Regions from separate parts of the Homo sapiens genome. Here region 2 is linked to region 1. Evidence: fine-mapped expression QTL. Tissue or cell type: whole blood. Region 1 holds a variant in brackets; the other region holds the start of a gene. All regions are shown on one strand. Distances are from middle to middle.

Evidence for each region. PIP is the estimated chance that this variant, and not a neighbour inherited with it, causes the effect.
Region 2: SERPINB1 starts here. The variant in region 1 is fine-mapped to the expression of SERPINB1 in whole blood (TOPMed, PIP 0.95).

Annotation. Positions count from the first base shown.
Region 1 is chr6:2,788,261-2,799,147 of GRCh38, forward strand. It overlaps LOC124901241 (a long non-coding RNA gene), which reads right to left. Exons shown (of 3, transcript XR_007059408.1): 3 at 2,931-3,226. Among named protein-coding and RNA genes, the nearest start is that of WRNIP1, 28 kb to the left of the region's middle. RefSeq lists an enhancer at 2,975-3,269 and silencers at 2,975-3,269, 9,540-9,644. The variant C/T (reference allele first, on the strand shown) is at 5,036.
Region 2 is chr6:2,836,891-2,847,777 of GRCh38, forward strand. SERPINB1 (serpin family B member 1) reads right to left here and starts at 4,973. Exons shown (of 7, transcript NM_030666.4): 1 at 4,922-4,973; 2 at 3,529-3,704; 3 at 1,659-1,796; 4 at 992-1,109. The coding sequence starts at 3,696. RefSeq lists a silencer at 4,868-4,917.

The DNA of each region.
Region 1 (10,887 bases):
TTAAGAAATGTATAGCCCAGTTTTTTCTTGATTTTTTTTTTTTTTTTTTTGGAGACGGAGGCTTGTGCTCTTTTGCCCAGGCTGGAGTGCAATGACGCGATCTCGGCTCACTGCAACCTCCACCTCCTGGGTTCAAGCACTTCTCCTGCCTCAGCCTCCTGAGTAGCTGGGACTACAGGCACACACCACCACGCCTGGCTAATTTTTTTGTATTTTAGTAAAGACAAGGTTTTACTGTCTTGCCCAGGCTGGTCTCGAACTCCTGAGCTCAGGCAATCCGCCTGCCTCAGCCTCCCAAAATGCTAGGATTACAGGCATGAGCCACTGTGCCTGGCCAATTTTGATTCTTTAAAAATAACATTTTTACAGGCCAGGCGTGGTGGCTCACACCTGTAATCCCAGCACTTTGGGAGGCCAAGGCAGGTGGATCACGAGGTCAGGAGATCGAGACCATCCTGGCTAACAAGGTGAAACCCCGTCTCTACTAAAAATACAAAAAATTAGCCGGGCGCGGTGGCGGGCGCCTGTAGTCCCAGCTACTCGGGAGGCTAAGGCAGGAGAATGGCGTGAACCCGGGAAGCGGAGCTTGCAGTGAGCCGAGATTGCGCCACTGCAGTCCGCAGTCCAGCCTGGGCGACAGAGCGAGACTCCGTCTCAAAAAAAAAAAAAAAAAAAAAATTTTTGTTGGGGGATGGAGTTACTTCCAAATAAGAAGTGTGCTTGTGATGTAACCGGAGGTGACATTAACTCCTCAACAAGCTTTTCCGTCATGACTCACTCCTGCCAGTTTCCCAAGGGACGGATCCCAGTGGTGGTCAAGGCACAGGTGTGAATTTATGCCAGGACGATATGTGAGCATCGTAACTCAAGCCAACAGATAAGTGATGAGGGCTTTTTGAGATCCATCATCCTATTAGACATGCGGCCCTGAACACAGTGTGTAACGCGGACACGGGGCCTGTGCTGGAGCACGCGGTGCTGGGGAGAGCCTGCAGCACACTTTCTGCTGTATCCAGCAGCGGGGCACTGAGCAGCCAACTTTCTGTAACTGTAAAATCAAGCTTGAAAGTTTGCAAATGCTTGTTTTTTGGTTTCAAAGAATCTTATTTTGTGAAAGCAGATTTTTAAAGTTTTTAAAGCAGATATTCACTGCCTGAATGAATACCTCTCACATACCACAGTGAGCATGACTGAAAGTTTACACCATTAGCTAAACCCTGGGAAAAACTAATGCAGTGAGTCAGAGTTTCTGGTGAGGGAGGCACATCTCTTGCCTGTTTACAGTAGTATTCAACAATTGGGGGCAGCCCTTCCATATGATGCCATTTAAATACCACAAGTTATGGGCCAGGTGCGGTGGCACACACCTGTAATCCCAGCACTTTGGGAGGCTGAGGCGGGCAGGTCACTTGAGATCAGGAGTTTGAGACCAGCCTGGGCAACATGGTGAAACGTCGTTTCTATTAAGTATATAAAAATTGGCTGGGTGTGGTGGCGCACACCTGTAATCTCAGCTACTCAGGAGCCTGAGGCAGGAGAATCGCTTGAACCTGGGAGGTGGAGGTTGCAGTGAGCCGAGATCGCGCCACTGCACTCCAGGCTAGGTGACAGAGTGAGACTCCATCTTAAAAAATAATAATAAATAAGTAAATAAATAAATATCACAAGTTATGTACTGATTCTGAAAAAGCAACATAACCACCAAACACAATTTATTCCTTATGTTCCAAGTGTATTTGGTAGTTTTGTTCACCCTCATAACAGCCAAACCTGAGTTTAAGAACAGTAAGAATAGTGACTTGCAGAGATTTGTTCCAATTGTTACAACAAGAATGGATGTTAACTCATCTTTTCCAGATACAAGTCATCAAACCTGGACAATGTTATCAATTAATTCCAAATGAGAGAACCGGCCTTTTGATACTGATGTTATATTAGAAAGGATGATTTTCCTATACTTTCATATAAATGCCATGGATCTCTTACTTTTTGATGAATTAACCTTTGTGTAGCGACTACAGTTTGAAAGCACTACTACACATTCATAGATGCAGTTCCAGGCAGTTTGAGCCCACAAAGGCATTTATAACTTAAGCAGAAACCAAACAGAAGTAAATATTTTTAATAGAGTTAACAAATCTTCATAAAAACCAATCATTTAAAACTAAATGTTTTGAAGCTCTAAAGCCAGTCAGGCTCCGGGGAGGATGCAGATGATCCCCTCAGGCCACTGAGAAACTTTTAATCAGGGATCACAAGTATTAGAGAGGTATAGGGGAGGTTCAGGGGACCAACACAAGGTGAGAAGCAATTCCCTGGCAAGGCCTGAGAGGCAAGGGGTGGGAGCAGGCAGGGAGCCCTGGGAGAGCAGGAGGTGGCCGGCAGCCTTCAGACAGGAACTGCGGCCCTGAGTGGAGGCAAAGAACTCAGCAGCTGCTGCACCTCTTGAGTAGGGAACCTGGGGGTAGGAGAAGGAAATGCATGGTCTGAATCCTCTCTCTCTTGCCCTCATCTCCTGCCAGTCCCTCCCACTAGCAGGACCAACCAGAAGTTTCCCTGGTTAAAAAGCCAGGCGAGAAGGGTGGAGAATACCCAGTGTGCACAGATCTCTGAAATGAGAACTACTACTGCTCTATTTTAGGAGAAACAAAATTCTTTCTGTGTGATTGTATACCTTGAGAGCCAAGAAGAAGAGTCCGAACAGCTAACAGTCCAGTAAAGTGGCCACATGGAAACAACCCATGAAAATCCATAGCTTCCGGGCCACTACTGTAATCAGAAAAGACACCAAGAAGAATATTCCATTCTCAGTAGCAACCTGGAAAGAAACTGAATTGTAACTGAGGAGTAGGACTTACATGAAGAAAACTACCACACTATACCCTACTATTGAAACACAAGAAAATGCGAACGAAAGTAGAGAGAAGCCGTTTTCCTCAAAGACGTCATCTCAAATTTATTTTTACATTCCCATCATGCTTGGCATGTAGAATGTGATCAGTACATATTTGTTGAATGACAAAATGAGGGGATAAATAAACTTTCCCTAAGATGTGTATGTAGACGTTTGAAAATAGAAGTCTGTCGCTGATGTTTCTGTCCACCAGGAGTCAGGCTTCAGCCAGGAAAGAGTGAGCCAGTGTCTGAGCTGTCTCTCACCAGGCCTTCCACCAGCTCCAGGTCACCAGGTTCAGGCCAAGACTGAGTTTCAGTATTTGTCGTTAACCTGGTAGATAAATAAACAGTTTTAAAGTAGAGCTTATGTATTTGTCTGATTGCAAAAGTAATACATGATCATTGCACATAGGTACAGGAGCAGATGCAAAAAAAAAAAAAAGCAGATAAAAGATAGTAAAAATCAACTTTAACATTTAATATTTTTTCTCAGTGATAACCACTGTAAACATTTTAGTGTATGTCCTTTGGGAATTTTTTCCAATGAGTGTGTGTGTGTGTGTGTGTGTGTGTGTGTGTATGTATGACTACACCATCTGTTTATAGCTTGCTGTTTCTCACCCCCTCACATGATTTCTTACATGCAGAATTAGTCTCTTAGCGTATGACTTTTCATGGTTGAGTTGGAGCCACCACCAGGGAGCTGCACCCTTCCGGTGGTGCACCCCACCAGCCGTGCCATCCACAGAGGGTAGGACACACCAGACACCTAGTAGCTGGATTTATTTATTATATTTTATTTTATTTTTGAGATGGAGTCTCACTCTGTCGCCCAGGCTAGAGTGCAGTGGTGCAATCTCGGCTCACTGCAACCTCTGCCTCCCAGATTCAAGCAGTTCTCCTGCCTCAGCCTCCCGAGTAGCTGGAATTACAGGCACCTGCCACCATGCCCAGCTCATTTTTGTATTTTTAGTAGAGACAGGGTTTCACCATGTTGGTCAGGCTGGTCTCGAACTCCTGACCTCAGGTGATTCACCCACCTCAGCCTCCCAAAGTGCTGGGATTACAGGCATGAGCCACCGTGCCCGGCCTAGAACTGGATTTAATAAGAGAAACAGAGAGCCTCACACCACTCTCCCCTCCTTCAGCACCCTGCCTCCAGGGTTCTTTCGGCTCGCTAGCCAACCACACTTGGTGAGGTGCGTGGGTCCAGGAGTCTGTCTGCTCGGGTTCAAATCCTATCTGAGCCACCTCACCCCGTGACCTTGGTCAAGGTTATTTTCTTTTCCCTCATCTTTAAAATGGGTATCAAAATATTACTTAATCACAATGGAGATTACATGATTCAAATCTGGCATTGCTCAAAGTCATGTCCGGCACACAGTCCATACATGCTGGGTATTGCCATGACTCATTCTCCCCACCCCAGTTCAAGCATCGCTTTCCTCTCAAAGCCTGCGCTGAGCCCTCAGGCTAAGCTTCCCAGCCCAGCGCTGTGCAGCCCCAGGTGCTATTGCTCACCTGGGCTCTGAGCCATTGTGGTGTTCCAGGGCCTTAGGTGGTTATGGACCGGGCACTGCTCTCTCCCTCTGGGCTCTCCCTGGACGCCAGCCTGCATCTCTTTCATTTTCTTCGCTCAGGGGACAGGCTGAACTTGGGGACTGCGGAGGCCTGCAGTCTTCCAAGCACACTTGCTGCTTCATTTTGGCTGGCAGCAGTAATTGCAAACATGTATTCCCTGCCTGCCATATGCTGGGCACCATGCAAAATGTTTTCCATATGTGATCTCAATTTCCAAAAAGACTATATAAGCCGGTGCTGTTAGTACGTCTATTTTACATGGAGAAAAGGCGCACACAACTTAAGATGGCAAAGTGACTTCCTGAGAGTCAGCAGGATGGAAACCCCCAGAGCCGGCCCTGCCCGGCCACCTTGCCAGTGGCTCCAGGTTCTTACATGCATCAGAATCACCTGGAGGACTCGCTAAAAATCCCAGAATTTCTAATTCAGTCCATCTTCAATGGGGCCTAAGAATTTGTGTTTCCAACTATAAGTTCTCAGGTGGTGCTAACGGGGCTGGTCCACACGGACCACACTTTGAGAACAACTTCACCGTGCTATGTGACCTGCCATCAATAGC[C/T]TAGAAATAAGTTTTTGGTGGCAAACAGGCTCTTTTCAGACTCATCTCCTGCCTCTCTACCTGTAGCTGTCATTTATCTTTTCTTCCTTGCTCTAAACACATTCAGTGACTTATGAGGCCTTAAGGAGGTCCTGAGTCTCCATGCCACCTGGGCTTGCCTCCTTTGTCCCCCTCCCCTGTCATTCCTTCTGACACCAGCTGCTGCTTCTCTCCAGGTGTTTGTCATCCACACTTGAAATTGCTGCATGGGTGGGGAACATGGCTGCTGTGTGGCTGTGTGGGCAGGGCAAGGCCCAGGGGGCCTGGCTGAGGGCCGACAGTGAGCAGGCAGAAATCCAGAGGAGAGGATGTCTTTTTCTGTCTCACAAAGGCACACGTGGGCTAGCTGGGCTCTGAGGAAAGAGAGAGGCTTTTGAGCAAGTCCGTTTATGCTTCTTGCCTATTTTGCTTTAGCTTGTGGCTTCCGGTGAAAACACGCCTTCTTACTCATTTGGCTCCTTACTGAGGAATAAAATATACGAATTCCACTCCGTAGCCTGCAAATTCTCTACCTGTCTCATCGCCTCCTCACTGTTGCAGGTAGTTGAGACAAGTACAGTGGAACAGAAAGTCTGTTGGGCCAAGAATAGACTTTCTGGTATGAGATTCCCCAAGTGTGGGGAATGGTGAATGTCAGAAGCTTGAGTAGCAAGTGCACACATGGGGCGGGTCTCTTGTCACTTGTACTGGTTGTGCTCTAGTCACAGTAGGCTCTGAGGAAGCCAGGGTCCATGTGGCCATCTGCTTGAGCAACCTGCAAAGTCCTGGGTGTGGTATTTCTTTACTCTGCATGAAGTTACTCAACTGCCATCTGTATGACTAGCCAACTTTGAAGCAGAAACTATCTGAATTAGAATTCCATATTTCTTCCATTCTCTAATTTTTTTGAAATTCTGCCCCCATGATCTATAAAAAAAATGTGAAGTCTTCACCTAACCATCCACTTCATTAAGTCTCTCCTTCCTCTGCTCACATCACACTGCATAGGTTCTGTCTTTTTGGCTGTGGGTTATAAGCCTTCTGAGGGCAAGCATAGTCATAGTCATGTTCATTCCACAATGTTTGGCTCCTAGTAGCTTTTCAGCAAGTAATTGCTTAACTGACTTTCCCCGCTACAGAAGACGATGCTTTTCAAGAATAGACAATTCCATGTCACAGATAGTGTAGGTGTGAACGTCCCCAGGCTCAGGGCAGTGGATTAGTCATGAGCCGAGATCATTTTTCATGCTCTGGTTTGCACAGTGGAATGACTGGAGTAGCTTAGGATGTGGTATGAATTTCCTACTAGTGCACTAAAAACAGGATTCACATCCCTTCTGCCTTATGATTGTTTATGCAATAACCTCATTGCAAATGTCGTGTTGCTGTACCTTCCCATGATGTTTTAATGAAGTAGAATTTTAAAATATAATTAACGTGCTTAAGGTCATAAATCATAAAACAGATTTGGACAACTTCTGGATCATAGTATTTCAGCCTCTCTAAGCCTCAGTTTCCTTATCTCTTAAAGGAGGATAGATTACAATAATCTCTACAAACTCATGCAGTTTAAAAATACATTGTTGTTGCTGAGGCGGGTGGATCGTGAGGTCAGGAGTTCGAGACCAACCTGACCAACATGGTGAAACCCTGTCTCTACTAAAAATACGAAAATTAGCCAGCCATGGTGGCGTGCACCTGTAATCCCAGCTACTCAGGAGGTTGAGGCAGGAGAATTGCTTGAACCTGGGAGGCGGAGCTTGCAGTGAGCCAAGATTGTGCCATTGCACCCCAGCCTGGGCGACAGAGTGAGACTCCATCTCAAAAAAGTAAGTAAATAAATAAATAAATAAATAAATAAACCAACAACAACAAAACATAGTTGTTATCTGTATCATAAGAACTACTTAAAGGAAAATCTCCATTTTGCTAATGAGTCATTAAATACATATTTTACATCCTTCCAACAAGCTTCCATGTTGAGAAAACTGGCTTTTGAGACAAGGCCATTGTTCAATCTCTGGTAAGTCACTTCACTCATTCAGGCCTCGATTTTCTCAGCTTGGAAGTGGGTATAACAATGACTTCTAGGTTCACTTTTATTTTTTGGCAGGGCCACTTTTACACTGGAAGTTTCTTATGAAAATCAAGTAAGATATGCAGATAAAAATATACTATCAACTGTCAAGTGCTATTTAAATTAAGGCACGATTATTTTGACTGTTTACATGGGAAAGCATTAAGAAATATTAGCGGTTTTCAGAAGCCAGATGCTATGGAAGTCAGAATTGTTTCATTAGCTCACATGATATTCAAATGGGCATGGAATGAACTCCAGTGGGAAAGTGAGCAGTGTGCCCTGTGCCTTCCTCTCCCCCTGTCTCCTTTTCTTCCTCTTTGGAGAAACCTTGGCTCCTTCCTCCTTGGGAGAGAGCAGACCTGGATGGCCACAGATTTTGATGGACGTGCTGCCTTTTGTAAGCAGGAGTTGTCTTGGCCCCTTTGGTAGATTTAGAAGGGTCTGTTACTGCCTGTCTTCCCACTCCATCTGCCCATTCCAGTAACCAGAAACAGGCTTGATTGAGAAGCTAAATTTAGAGAACTCAGGATCATCAAAGAATACTGCTGAACCCGGTGATGGTGCGGAAATCGTGAAATAGCAGAGGAGAGGAGCCCTCAGGACAGTTCATACCAGAAACCTCTTTTCTAGTTTCCTCTGACCTGTGGGTTGTCACCGTGACACAGAACTGGAAAGAGAACAGACGGGGTGTCACAACAGCGAGGCTTATGAAATCTTTGCAAAACTTTCCGCAAGTCAGGCTTGAACTAGGAGTACGAGCTGCCCTCCAGGTGGGTGACACATCTACGACCCCGCAGGACCACCAGCCCCACGCTTTCAGCCAGTGCTGCCCAGAGTGCGGTGCCCGGACCAGCAGCCAGCAACCTGAGCCCATGAGAAATGCAGAACGCGACGCCCAGGCTCGGCCAACTCAGCTGGAATTGCTAAGGAATCTGTGTGAACAAAAGCTCAAGAGATTTTTTTATGCCTCCTTCATTTTAAGAAACAATATTGGCTGGGCGCCGTGGCTCACGCCTGTAATCCCAGCACTTTGGGAGGCCGAGGCGGGTGGATCACGAGGTCAGGAGATCGAGACCATCCTGGCTAATATGGTGAAACCCCATCTCTCCTAAAAATACAAAAAAATTAGCCGGGCGTGGTGGTGGGCGCCTGTAGTCCCAGCTACTCGGGAGGCTGAGGCAGGAGAATGGCGTGAACCCAGGAGGCAGAGCTTGCAGTGAGCCAAGACTGCACCACTGCACTCCAGCCTGGGCGACAGAGCAAGACTCCGTCTAAAAAAAAAAAAAAAAACGAAACAATATTGTAAGTTATGCTCAAAGACTTTTGTGTCAGAATGTCAGGGAAATGGATCACATGGTTCAGTAACTGTCAGATAATTTCAAAACAGCACATCACCTTCCCCAGGCTCTTCTCTTTCTCCTCAAGTGCCTCACTGGGACTCTCCTTCTCTTTTATCTGGAAGCAGAGGCCTTGCAAGGGCTGGCTGATCATCCCACAGTTCCAGCGTTTGCAGGGCAGCACTGGGCATTTTGAAGGGCAGGAAGGAGGAGGGGGTGGGCTGCTCTTGCACCTCCCCTGTGCCCACCTCCAGTCACCAACCCAAAAGCTGCTCTCTAGAGAACAAGTCCAGTCCTCTCTCATCTCCCTGCTGTTCCTCAATTTCAAGTCTCTTTCATAAGGAAATGTCCAAAGCTCTTGAAGGCTGGATGTCTCTCCACTGAGAAGACTCTTACTCAATTCAGATGTCTATGAGGAAATCCCATCACACCTTTTGCTCTGGGCCCACCCATTCCTTCTGGATTTAGGGCCCTCGCGTAGGGAAGAGCCGCGTGGGACAGCCACACATGGTAGAGCCCGCAAGGGCAGCTCCAGGGTTGTGCTCTGTCTGCAGGACCAAGGACACAAGGGAAGCCCCTTGGGGCAGCAAGTGGTCTTGGTGAATTGAGAAACTGAGGCCTCAGCACAGAAGGAAGGAAATGAGAGGAAGCTGGCCAGGTGTGACTCTGGGCTCAGTGGCCTGGAGGCTCAGCACCAGATCCCTTCCTGCAGCTTCCCAGGCCTTCGCTAGCTCCTTCCAGCCAGGAGTTTGAATGCTGGGTGGACCAAGACACCTGAAGTTTCCTACAGTGGCAAGGGTGGGAGAGAAGGGGGTGGCCCTCAGTGATGTAGTCCCTGGAAACTTAGGCAAGAACTGAGAATGAATGTGTCCTCGGCAGGACTGTGCAGCTGTTCTTCCCTCCCTGCTCCCCTCCCAGAACATGTGACAGGTGAAGTTCACAAGCAGCACATTCTTCACAGTTCCCAGGTCCCTGAAATCCCTTGAGACAGCCAACAGCAAGCAAGGTGGGGAGGGACGAAGTCCCAGAAATGACTTCACAAGAATGTACACAAACAACGAAGCCCCAATTTGAATCTCACAGGTTCAGCCCTGGCCTGATCTCACCCAAGGCAGATCTCCTCCTCCTCCTCCTCCTCCTCCTCCTCTTCCTCCTCCTCCTCCTCCTCTTCCTCCTCCTCCTCCTTCTCCTCCTCCTCCCCTGCTCCTACTCCTCCCCTTCCTCCATGCTGCCCTGGGCAGGCTGTGAGAGGAGATGGGGAGAGAGCTGCTGTCACTTTAAAATCAGCCTCTGCTGTGACTTCAAGCTAATCCATCAAACTAACTTCAAATGAATTCCTCCTCTCCATTCAAATATGTTTAAGCTCACAGTTTCTTTTTCTTTGTCTTTTTTTTTTTTTGCATCAAGAAGATACTTTTAAATAAATAGTTGCTAAAATACTTGTGAGGTAGTGATAACTTTGAAATAAATACTATTTTAAACAAAATTCACAGAAAGCCCCCTATTGATTGGAATCATTGCATGCAGTGAGTTGCAATATATTAAATAGATAGCTCCTGCTGCATGCCCGGTGATGTGGCCCCTCTCCTGGGCCGTGGATGGAGACACATTTGCAGAGATCTGCTTGCTTGGCTACCGCAGGCATGGAGGATTCGCGTACGCATGACAGCAACCCCTTTCTCCGGGGACATTTACTCTTCCTCCGGGGACATTTACTCTTCCTCCAAGTGTGTGATGTGAGGGGAGCTGTGGACTCCTCAAGGCCCAGGCTGCCCCGCCCAGCACAGGGAGGAACACTCCCTCCAGGTGGCCTCCTCTCCTGCCCCTTCCTCAGGCCCTAGTCACTCCGTCCAAGGACAGGCTCTTGGTCTAAGTTCTTCCCTGGGAACACAGGAGCAAGCCCTGACTCTTTGGTCATGACGCTCAGAGATGTGAACATGTGTTTCCCGCTACGTGAAGAAGCCAGTGTGAGGAAACAAGGCTGGGAAGAACCCAGCCGAGAGGAGGAGACAGCCAGGGCCCATGCCAGGCCTAGTGACAGGTGTTTCTGACACCCCCCACACCCCTGCCATTTCTGTGGTAGCTTGAAACTTCCAAAAATCCCTTCTTTTGTTTCCTCTTAATCCAGTTTAAATTGGGTTTCAATAACTGGCAACCAAGAGGAGTTATGACCAATGAACAGCAGGGCTAGTGTGGGGGCGGAGCCGGGCCAGGTGGGTTCCAGCCGTGCAGAGGCCCATGAGGCCACGGGTTCAGTAGCTGTCGGGGTGGGTGGAGCGCAGCCCCAGAAACCTCATACCCATTGGGGTACCTTGGTTTATTGGGAACTTGGGCATTTGGATTTTCTTTTTTTTTTTTTTCTTTTTTTTGAGATGGAGTCTCACTCTGTCGCCCAGGCTGGAGTGCAGTGGCATGAT
Region 2 (10,887 bases), 49 kb after region 1:
AGCAGAACATACTCCATGGAAATAAAGGTCACCTTCGTGACCATAAGTATGGCTGGGAACAATTCCCATAATGGAAGACAGGTCTTCTGGAGTGGGTTGACTAATACAGGGCTATGTAAGAAGAGAGATGTAGCAAAGAAATAAATTGCACCCTAAAAGCAAGTCAGTCCCCACCTACCACAACTTTTTTACTGGACAAGATGTTGGCAAAAAATTTACAACCACAGTAGTTTGTGAATATTGATTTCAGGTATTTCCATGAAATTCCAGGACATTTCTTTCCATATGAGTATTAGGTAATTTTTGGCAGGCTGAATTCTCCTCAAAATTTTAATTCCTTTTTTGCTGTATTCAGTGTTGGTTTTAACTTTATTTTTTATTTTTTATTATTTTTATTATTTTTTTTACGACGGAGTCTCGCTCTGTTGCCTAGGCTGGAGTACAGTGGCATGATCTCGGCTCACTGTAACCTTTACCTCCTGTGTTCGAGAGATTCTCCTGCCTCAGCCTCCAGAGTAGCTGGGATTACAGGTGTGTGCTACCACACCTGGCTAAATTTTTTGTATTTTTAGTAGAGACAGGGTTTCATCATGTTGGCCAAGCTGGTCTTGAACTCCTGACCTCAAATGATCCGCCCGCCTTGGGCTCCCAAAGTGCTGGGATTACAGGCATGAGCCACCGCGCCTGCCAATGTTGGTTTTAACTTTGAAATGCAACTTTAAAAGTTTTGGGGAGCTGATGAGAAAAAAGGATTTAGCTGCTTGAGTTAAATCATGTTTAAGTTTCCACTCTGGTGAACTTCGAACATGTGAGAGCTGTCCAGCAACGTGCAGTGCAGACTTCACGCACCGGCAGCGTCCTCTGACTGTAACCACGATGTGCGCCAGGACTGTGGGAGCTGGGGAGGGAATAACTGCAGGTAGGGAAGGCGGACTGAGGAAACGAATGACATGACCAGCGCATAATGATTCCATTCTGCCCAGGCTCTCACCTTCTGTCTGTCCTTTGACCCACTGGTTTATGGTCTTCCTTGCATCTTCAGAGGCATGCTGAAAATCCACACTGGCCAGGTCAGCACCATATGTTTTCTGAGTCGAAACCAAGAACTCCTATTAAAAAAAAGGAAAAGGAAATATATATATAACTCCTACTACATATAGAAATTGTTTTCTAAAATCCCAAAAAGCAACAGAAATTGTCCTAAAAGGCTACAATTCCATGTAACACAAAATTTCTAACTCTTATAGTTTTTCTTATAGTAGTAAAAATCATTTAACATTAAATTTACGATCTTAGCCACTTTTAACTGTGCATTCCAGTAGTGGTAAGCCTAACCCTTATACTGTTGTTGTTATATAGAAATTACCACTCTTTTCTGAACTTTGACTAAGATTTCACAAACACTGATTGTACTCTTGCTTCAGTAAAACCTCCAAGAGCTATCTTTTCACTAAAAAGACTGTAACACAAAATCACCATGTCAATTAAAGTTTGCATTCTGTCGTGTTTGCCTTCCATATTGTTTTTGCCATGTTTGCCTTCTGTATTGTTTTTCTGAAAGTTTACAAATATTAAAACTGACCTCCATGACTTGATTGTGCTGGAAAATATCTGCACTGTCTAGTGGGGTTTTAGAATGTGAAGGGCAAAGTACTTACAGGAAGGAAATTGTAAGTTTTCTCTCCATATAATCTATTAGCAAGTTTCAGAATATAAGACGCTCCACGTTTGTTGATATCAGCATTCAGACTCTGGAATCTTGAATGAACCTCTTCAACCGTGTTGAAATGGAAAGTCTAAAATAAAGAAAATCTTCTTTCTACAACCATTTATTTTGAAACTATAAAGTGATTCCTTGGTGTTTCCTTCTATCACATTAAATTAATGTGTTTTTATTACTAATTATTGATGATCCCAAACCCAATACTTTATTAATTTGTCATTGCAGAACAAACAATAGGAAATCCAAAATTTATGGCTTCGTGAGACAGAATGTTTACAACTTTACACATTGCTTTTACATCACTCTTTGTTACACTTGCAGTTCCACAAATGTGGGTGGTTAAGATACTAAATATTTATATATAAGTCTGCCTTTTCCAAAGAAAATAATAAATGGTATGTTCATATTTATATTCTGTATCAAATATAATTTTACTGAAAGTTCTCAGAAATAAGCAGTAAAAATAGGATTCATCCTCTATTCAGAACCACAAAGATAGTACAGACTGAAGCTTTTAAAATTTTATTACCCTATTAACATCAGTAACTCACTTATTTTAAAATAACTTCCTTAAACTTAACATTCTGGCAAAAGTTTAATTCCCCATGTATCAGTTACAAATCAAGAGGCCCTTTGTGGTTTTATGAGACCTAGGCTGGTTCCTTTATGATTAAGACACAAAGAACAAAATTGCATAGGGTACGAAGTCCACATTACTCACCGAGATATGGAATGTTTGCACTGTGCCTATGCTCCATCTGCTTTAATGGAAATGGGGGAGGAGTCCTTAAAACTATTCTTTGCTGAGGTTTTAAAGTCCCTGGAAAACCTCAAGCTAGGAACTGATATAACCCTGCAAGAAGCAACTAACAATTAGTAACAGAGGTTTTTTTTTTTTAATGGATTTAAAAAAAACATTTAAAATGCTTTCATATCTAAAGTGATGAGTAATAGAAGTTTCGCAGCCCCTTGAACTTGAATCCCAGGCTGCACCTTGCCAAGGAACAGGTGCAGTGTAATTTGCGGCAGGTATGTTAGAAGAGCCTCCACTTTTACCACTCCTTTCTGCTGAGCTTAGAGAGAGAGAGCTAGAGTTCTCTTCTCAGAATTAAAGAGTACCAAGCACAGAAGTCCTCTCCATGTCCATTATGGACAAGAAGGAAGGCTGGGCATGAGAGTGACCTGTCACATCGCCAAGGGCTGGGTCCCGCCCCTGAAGCTGCGGGTCTCCCCCTCACCTCCCCTGCAGGGCGTGCTATGCCACAGCCCACTGAGCCATGCGCAGCACCCTGGGACTACAGAACCACAGGGTCACTTTTTCTCTTTTCCTTGCAAAAAAGCAATGCCACTATCTCCACTATAATGCATTCCCTATGTCTTATTCCTCTCATTATGCTTGAAAGTAGTGTTATATAACAGGCAATATTTATGAGTTGCATATCATCATATGCAAAGCAAAAACTGGAAGATGCTAGCTCAGGAGGATGTAGTATGCCTTTCAGGAAAGCTGTCAGATTCATCCACTGGAACAGAAGCCTCGCCCTGCAGGGATTTTTGTCAGCTTTGCTCACTGCTGTCTCCTCAGCAATACGAAAAACAGTTCCTGGTACGTGGTAGGTACTTAGGAAAAACCTGATGATGAATGGAAGCCTGCATACAAGTGTGACTTTTCTGAAAGTCTGATCTCATAAAAATACAGTTCTGAAAACACAAGGTAAGAGCTCAAAGGCACAACCTTTCCATGCAGACTGTCCATTCGTAGGGAGATGGGAGGAAAGCAGACCCTTTTTTTTGTTTCTGCTGACCTTGGACAGCTGTGCTGCCGTGTTACCTCTGGTCCCCAGAAAAACCATGGCCATAGCAGATGAAATGCTGAAGGGAGAGATGAAGATGTTTCCAGCCGGATTGTTCTCACTCAACGCCAGGAACAGGTCCAAGGCGAAGCGGGTGTTTGCTGAGCTCAGCTGCTCCATGGTGAAAACTGCAACACAGAACAGGGTCCTCATGGTGCCCACTGCCCACGCCAGCAGATTAGGCAGCACTATTTCTCCAGAAGCTTCCTCAATTTCTGCCAACCGCCCTGAGGCATCCTGGATCTTGTACTTTCTCCCCGCTTTTTTATTCCAGCAGGGCAAGAACACTTTCCCAGGCCCACAAATGTGGGACCATTCTGGCCAAGGACTCAGCAGTTATAGGGGATTTTAGGGCACCCAGGGTGCCCTAAAGGGCTCTGACCTTGCAGACAGGTGAGTCTGGGGGTGGGGCGGGGGTAAGGCAGGCCCCAGCTACCCCAGCTTTAGTGGGGTGGGAGGGCCCACCCAGCCCTGGGTCTTCCCAACCTATGTGTGGGAGCGCACGTGCTTCTGAGCCTTTGATTCAAGTCTCTGATTCATTGGGCAATGAATCCATTGCCTACCTTCACCTGAACTAAGAGCCTTCTATCAGAGACTCAGCTACCTACTATGCATTAAAACTCCAGCAAAGGTATCACTGTAATTATTATAATAATATAATTCTTCCTTATTTTTGAGGTTCAAAAGGTATGAGGTCCAGTGCCCACAGTCTCAGAGCCGGTGTAGGATGTGCCAGTTTGGAAACCCACCACAGTCCAGGGTCTGGCCGTGCAGCGTCCCATCCGCCACCCACTAGCCCATCTCGATCTCCACTCTCAGAGCCCTGATTTCCCCCGAGGACAGGCAAAGAAGAACCGTGCTGGCTGCTCGGCATGTAAGCACAAAGCTGATTTCTCCTTGTTGTGAAATCGTCTCTAGAATCGCACGGGGTTCCTCCTCTCTCTCCCTGCAGCTGCAGATAGGAGCCGCGGCCTGGCCCTGGGCTGCCTGGAAACCGTCACAAACAGCTCTGGGAGGAAGGGAATTCAGGGAGAAGGGACAACATTCTGATCTCAGGTTTCAGTCTTGCCTTCCGCCTGCATCTGTCGTCCTCCCTCCCTCCCTCCCTCGCGGGCTGGCCCGGCCTGTACCCAGGCGGGGGCGGGGGATCAGAGGTCGTCTGTCTCCGTCGGGGCGCCCGGAAGGGATGGGGGCGCGAAGCTGGCGGGGAGGGCGAGCGCAGGGAGCTGCGGGTCTGAGGGGCCTGAGCCTGGGGGGTGGGGGGTGCCGGGCTGGAAGCTGAGCGAGGGAGCCTGGCCTCTCCCCGCGCCCGCCCCCGCGCCACCGCTCCGAGGCCCGGCCTTACCCGACAGGCCGCCGAGGCACGCTCCGGGCTCCGAGCTGGGTGCGAGGTCAGGAAGGAGGCACCGAGGGCCGCTGCTCTTATAGCAGGCGGAAGCGTCACCCGGGCCAGCAGCCGCGGGCGGGGCGGCGGCCCTTCCCGGTGACTGCGTAGGAGTCCGAGCTCCCGAGGTCGCCTAAGTGCAAGCAGAAGTGAGCGTGGCTTCCGGGCAGCGCCCTCCTCAGGGGCGCGGCTTCTTTCTCAGTTCAAAGCCTTTCCCCGAATCTCTGGCAAGGACCTGAAAAGCTTTTTCTTACTAAGGTGTGAATGACTGAGACGACATATTGTGACACCTCTTAGAGGGCAAATGACTCCCTTTGAGTCCCATCTATATTGGGAGCTTTCTTTGAGAGAAGGAAGCAAATTTGGGGATCTTGCACAGGGAAAAAGAGGGGCCCCCAGAATCAGATGAAACAGAACCAGTTCCAAACACCTGCTCTCTGTTTCCAAGATGACAGCTTGCTGCTGCGTCCTCAATGGTGGAAAGTGGAAGGGCAAAAGGGGCCAAATCTCATGTGAAGTCTCTCGTATAAGGGGCCAATCCCATTCATGAGGAAGGTGCCCTCATAATCCAGTCACCTCCTAAAGGCACCACCTGTTAGTATTGCATTGAGGATTGTTTCAGCATGAATTTTGCAGGGAACACAGACATTCAAAGCATAGCATTCTGCCCCTGCCCTCCAAATTCATACCCCTCTCACATGCAAAATGCATGCATTGTATCCCAGTGGCCTCCAAAGTTCCAGTATCAACTTTAAAATGTAAGTCCAAAGTCTCACCTAAATATCTTCTAAATTAGAAAGGCATAAGATTCAAAGTACAATTCATCCTAAGTGAAATTCCCCTCCAGCTATGAGCCCGTGAAATCAAATAGGTTACAGGCCTTCAAAATACAGTGATGAGACAGGCATAGGACGTACATTCCCATTCCCAAAGGGAGAAGCAGGCAAGAAGAAAGGAGTATCTGGTCCCAAGTAAGTCCAAACCCAACAAGGCAAACAGCATTAAATCTTGGGGCTTCAGAATAATCTTCTTTGATGCTGTGTCCCCCATTCCGAGCACAGGGGGGTGGAGACTGGGTCCCCTAGTGTCCAGGGGATCCACTCCCATGGATTTGCCAGGTGCAACCCATGCAGCAGCTCTCACAGGTTGAGGTCTAGGCTCTCCCAGGATAGACTTGCATGCTGGTGGCTGGACAGTTCTGGGTTCTCAGGGACAGCCCTGTTCCCACAGCTCCACTAGATATTACTCTATTTGGGGCTCTCTGCAGTGGCCCCAATCCCACTGCTCCACTAAACATTGCCCTAGTGAGGGTTTTCTGCAGCAGCCTCACCTCAGTGACAATTCTCAGACTGGGCCCCCAGGGTCCCCAACACATCCTTCAAAATCTAGGTGGAGGTGGCTGTGTCTCCACAGTTCATGCACTCTGTGCACCTGCAGAGTTAGCATCACGTGGACTCTGCCAAGGCTTACAGGAAGGGTGGCCTGACAAGGGCCTGCATAAGCCACACGTGGGATGGTGGCCAAAGAGTGCTGCACCAGAATGTGGGGGGTGGGGGGGCAGAGACTTGAGGCAGCCCTAGGCAGCAAGCCCCAAGGTTCCATGGTGTCCTGAGTCCTCCCTTAAAACTATTCTGCCCTCAGGGTCCTGGCACTCTGGGACAGGGATGAGAATCCAGAACCAGTAACCTCAGAAATGCCTTTGGGTTCATTCTTCCATTGTCTTGATAAATAGCATCTGGCTTCCTTCTACACATACTCATCTCATTATCAAATGTGAACCTGGCAGCACTCTTGGTGTTCCCTCCCAAACATGCCTTTTCATTCTTTACATGGCCAGGCTGAGAATTTTCCAAAACTTTAAGCTCTGCTTCCCTCTTGATTATAAACTTCGTTTTTAATTCATTCTCTCTGCTCACATTTTACTACAAGCAGTCAAGAGAAGCCATGCTGCACTCTCAACGCTTTGCTCAGAGATTTCTTCCATCAAATATCCTAGTTTATTGCCTTTAAGTTCTGCCATTCAGAAAACACTAGGACATAGACACAATTCAGCCAAGTTCATTGCCACTGTGTAACAAGGATGACCTTTCCTCCAGTTTCCTTTTAAGATCTCATCAAAAGTGTCTTTACCATCTATACTTCTAACCGCATTCTGATCAAGACCAGACCACTTAATTAATCTCTAAGATGATTTAGGCTCTCCCTACAGCTCTCCTTGTCTTCTGAGCCCTCACCCTTAATTTCCCTTAAAGCTCTGTTTATGTCTATACAGGCTTTTTCCAGCATGCATCTCCAAATTCTTCCAGCCTCTACCCATTACTCAGTTTCAAAGCTGTTTCCACATATTTAGGTATTAGTTATAGCAACATCCCATTCTCAGTATCAATTTCTGTCATAGTCCATTTGTGCTGCTATAAATACCTGTGATTGGGCAATTTATTAAAAACAGAAATGTATTGCTCACAGTTCTGGAGGCTGGGAAGTCCAAGAATAAGGCATCCACATATTTGGTGCCTGGTGTGGGCTGCTCTCTGCTTCCAAAATGGCACCTTGTTGCTGCATCCAAGGGGGAAATATACTGTATCTTCACGTGGCGGTGGGAGGGATGGAAAGGGATGAACGCACTCCCTCAAGGGCCCAAATCCCACCCATGACGGTTCTGCCCTCATGACTTAAGCACTTCTTAAGGCTCTACCTCTTAATACTATCACATTGGTGATAAAGTTTCAACATATGAATTTTGGGGAGACACATTCAGCCCATAAAACATCTGTTCTGTCAGGTGAGGACACAGCATTTGTCCCTTCTGCCTTTCCCACCAAATGAGAACACCGCAAGAAAATGCCCTCATCAGACACTGAGTCTGCACCTGCAGATCTCGAACTTCCCAGCCTTGGACTTCCCAGCCTCCAGAACTGTAAGAAATAGGTGTCTAGTGTTTACAAGATGTTTTGATAAAGCAGCAGGAAAAGACTAAGACAGGGGCTCTTCTTGAGAAGCCGGCCTTGTTCTTATCCCTCTTGTCTAGGAGAAATGTGTGGACACGGCCACATTACTGCCCCCGAGTCTTCCTAGCCCATCTCATCCAACAATAATATGGAGAAGTGTCAGTCTCCTAAGCGTTTTTCCTTATTCTCCTCCACCTTGAATTATTCCTGAATTATTCCTCCTGCCTCCAGCTCCTGAAAGTAGAACTTAGACTTTTTCTGGCTCTTCAAACGAGCTGCTACTGATCACCCAGAACTCTCAGAAGCATCTTGAGAATTTTTTTCTTCACTCTTCAAGTCATTTTGAATTAGCTTGTTTTCTTGTTCAGTTTAAGAAACTGCTATTAAGTGAATTGTGACACTTTTAATAAACTTGCAGCATGGTGAAATTAAAAGTCTCACAATAGCGTTTTGTAAATATGTTAAATATAATTCTTGTGGGTAAATTATTTCCATGTTGTGCTCGCTGGGTAATATATTTTATTTTAGGTACTAATATATTTTATTTTATTTTATTATTTTATTTAGGTAAAATAAAATAATATATTTTCTTTTAGGTAATTTATTTTAGGTGATTTATTTTAGGTAATATATTTTATTTTATCCTCAAAAGATAAAATGTATAGTAATCCACTAGCAGTTCAGCAACTGGAAATATTTTAAACTCAAAAAAAGCAATTTTTGTGTGCCATAGCCTGTATTTAGTATAGCAAAGGAGAAATATGAAAATAATTATTACATTTGTTTTTAATAAATAATTTTTTGAGCCTGGGCAACATAGGGAGACCCTATCTCTAAAAAACTTTAAAAATTAGCTGGGTGTGGTGGTACACACCTGTGGTCCCAGCTACTTGGGAGGTTGAGGTGAGAGGATCACTTGAACCCAGGAGTTGCATGAGGCTGCAGTGAGCTATGATCGCGCCACTGCACTCCAACCTGAGTGACAAAGTGAGAACCTGTCTCAAAAATAAAAAACAAAAAACACCAAAAAACTAATTTGTAACTTATAAACACAACTAGAAAAATAACACAAAATCATTTTACAGATAATGTTTTCTTATAATAGTCTGAGAATTTTGGGTGAGACTAATTTCATGACAGTGAATAATTTTGGCCCCTGGACAGTGGTTGCAGATAACAAGACGCTTCCAGGAAAGTCTAAAATCATTTACATTTTCCTATCTTAGGCAGCTTACGTGATTGAAATGAGAGAAACAGATAAAATAATCTCTCAGGGTTTCTTCTTTTTTCTTTTCTTTTCTTTTTTTTTTTCTTTTTGAGACGGAGTCTTTTTGTGTTACCCAGACTGGAGTGCAGTGGCACGATCTTGACTCTGCTCACTGCAACCTCCGCCTCCCAGGTTCAAGCGATTCTCCTGCCTCAGCCTCCTGAGTAGTTAGGACTACAGGTGTGCATCACCATGCCCAGCTAATTTTTTGTATTTTTAGTAGAGACAGGGTTTCACGATGTTGGCCAAGCTGGTCTCGAACTCCTGACCTCAAGCAATCTGCCCGCCTCAGCCTCCCAAAGTGCTGGGATTACAAGCAAGCCACCGCGCCTGGCCAGGGTTTCTTTTAGTCCTTTCATTTTCTGCCAAATAATGGAAGAAACCTAGCATTAAAATTTCAGCTGTGTAACACAGCTTCATCCTCCAGAGGGCAGAATTCCATCATTTATAAAATACAAATCACTGGCTTCCGCTGAGACATAAATGCCAGGACATCACGTAATTTCTCCTTTTCAGTCCAGCTTGGTCCTCCTCACTGGGGTACCTAGAATGTCTATAATTTAATTTTCTCTTGCAAATATCCATGTAAGCAGTCCACTGGGGAGTTCCTCTGACCTCGCATCCTTCTTTCCCCCTCATTTCACCAGCTTCCTTTCAGTGTCTCACCTTAGAAGGCTCATTTTCTTTCAGGTCTTTGTCCCTGATATTGCCTCTTTCTAGATGACTCACCCCTTCTTCTAATTCTGGTCTCGGCTCAATGCCACCTCTTCCCTGAGACCTTCCCTGGCTTCTGTTCTCATCCCGAGTTACTTTCTGTTTGCTTTGTAGCCTCAGTCACCATCAGAAACTGGTTGCCTATCTCCTTCAATAGAACATAACATCAGGAGAATAAGGCTTTGACCCAGTTGTTCACTGCTGCGTCCCCAGTATCTAAAACACCTGGCATATAGTAGTTGTTTAGGAAATTTTGCTGAATAAGTGAATGAAGATTATAGCTCAGAACAAACCAAGCCATGTGGACAGATGATACAACATTGCTCAGTTCAGTTTCTTGATGAATGATAAGGAGAATAAAAAGCTCTCTAAACTGCATGGATAGAATAACTATAATTTGAATGAAAATGGAGCCCCAACAAGAGGAATTCAGGTCCCAGTATAAACAGCAAGATACAGGAAGCAAAGTACATGACAGAAACGATCTGCATGGCATAATCATGGTGCAAAAAAGTTTGCCTGGGAATTCAGAACGAAGAATGAGGCGTTCACCGAAGCCTCCGATTATTACTCTGAGGACAAGATAAACAAGAGTAAGCTTATATTGTAATAAAGGATTGGCCGGGCACGGTGGCCCACGCCTATAATCCCAACACTTTGGGAGGCTGAGGCGGGTGGATCACCTGAGGTCAGGAGTTCGAGACCAGCCTGGCCAACATGGAGAAACCCCGTCTCTACTAAAAATACAAAATTAGCCAGGCGTGGTGGTGTGCACCTGTAATCCCAGCTACTCAGGAGGCTGAGGCTCGAGAGTCGCTTGAACCCGGGAGGCGGAGGTTGCGGTGAGCCAAGATCGCGCCACTGCACTCCAGCCTAGGCAACAAGAATGAAACTCCGTCTCAAAAAAAAAAAAAAAAGGATTGTTAGCTGGCTATAAAAATGACCTAAAATTGCCAGGTGCGGTGGCTCATGCCTGTAATCCCAGCACTTTGGGATGG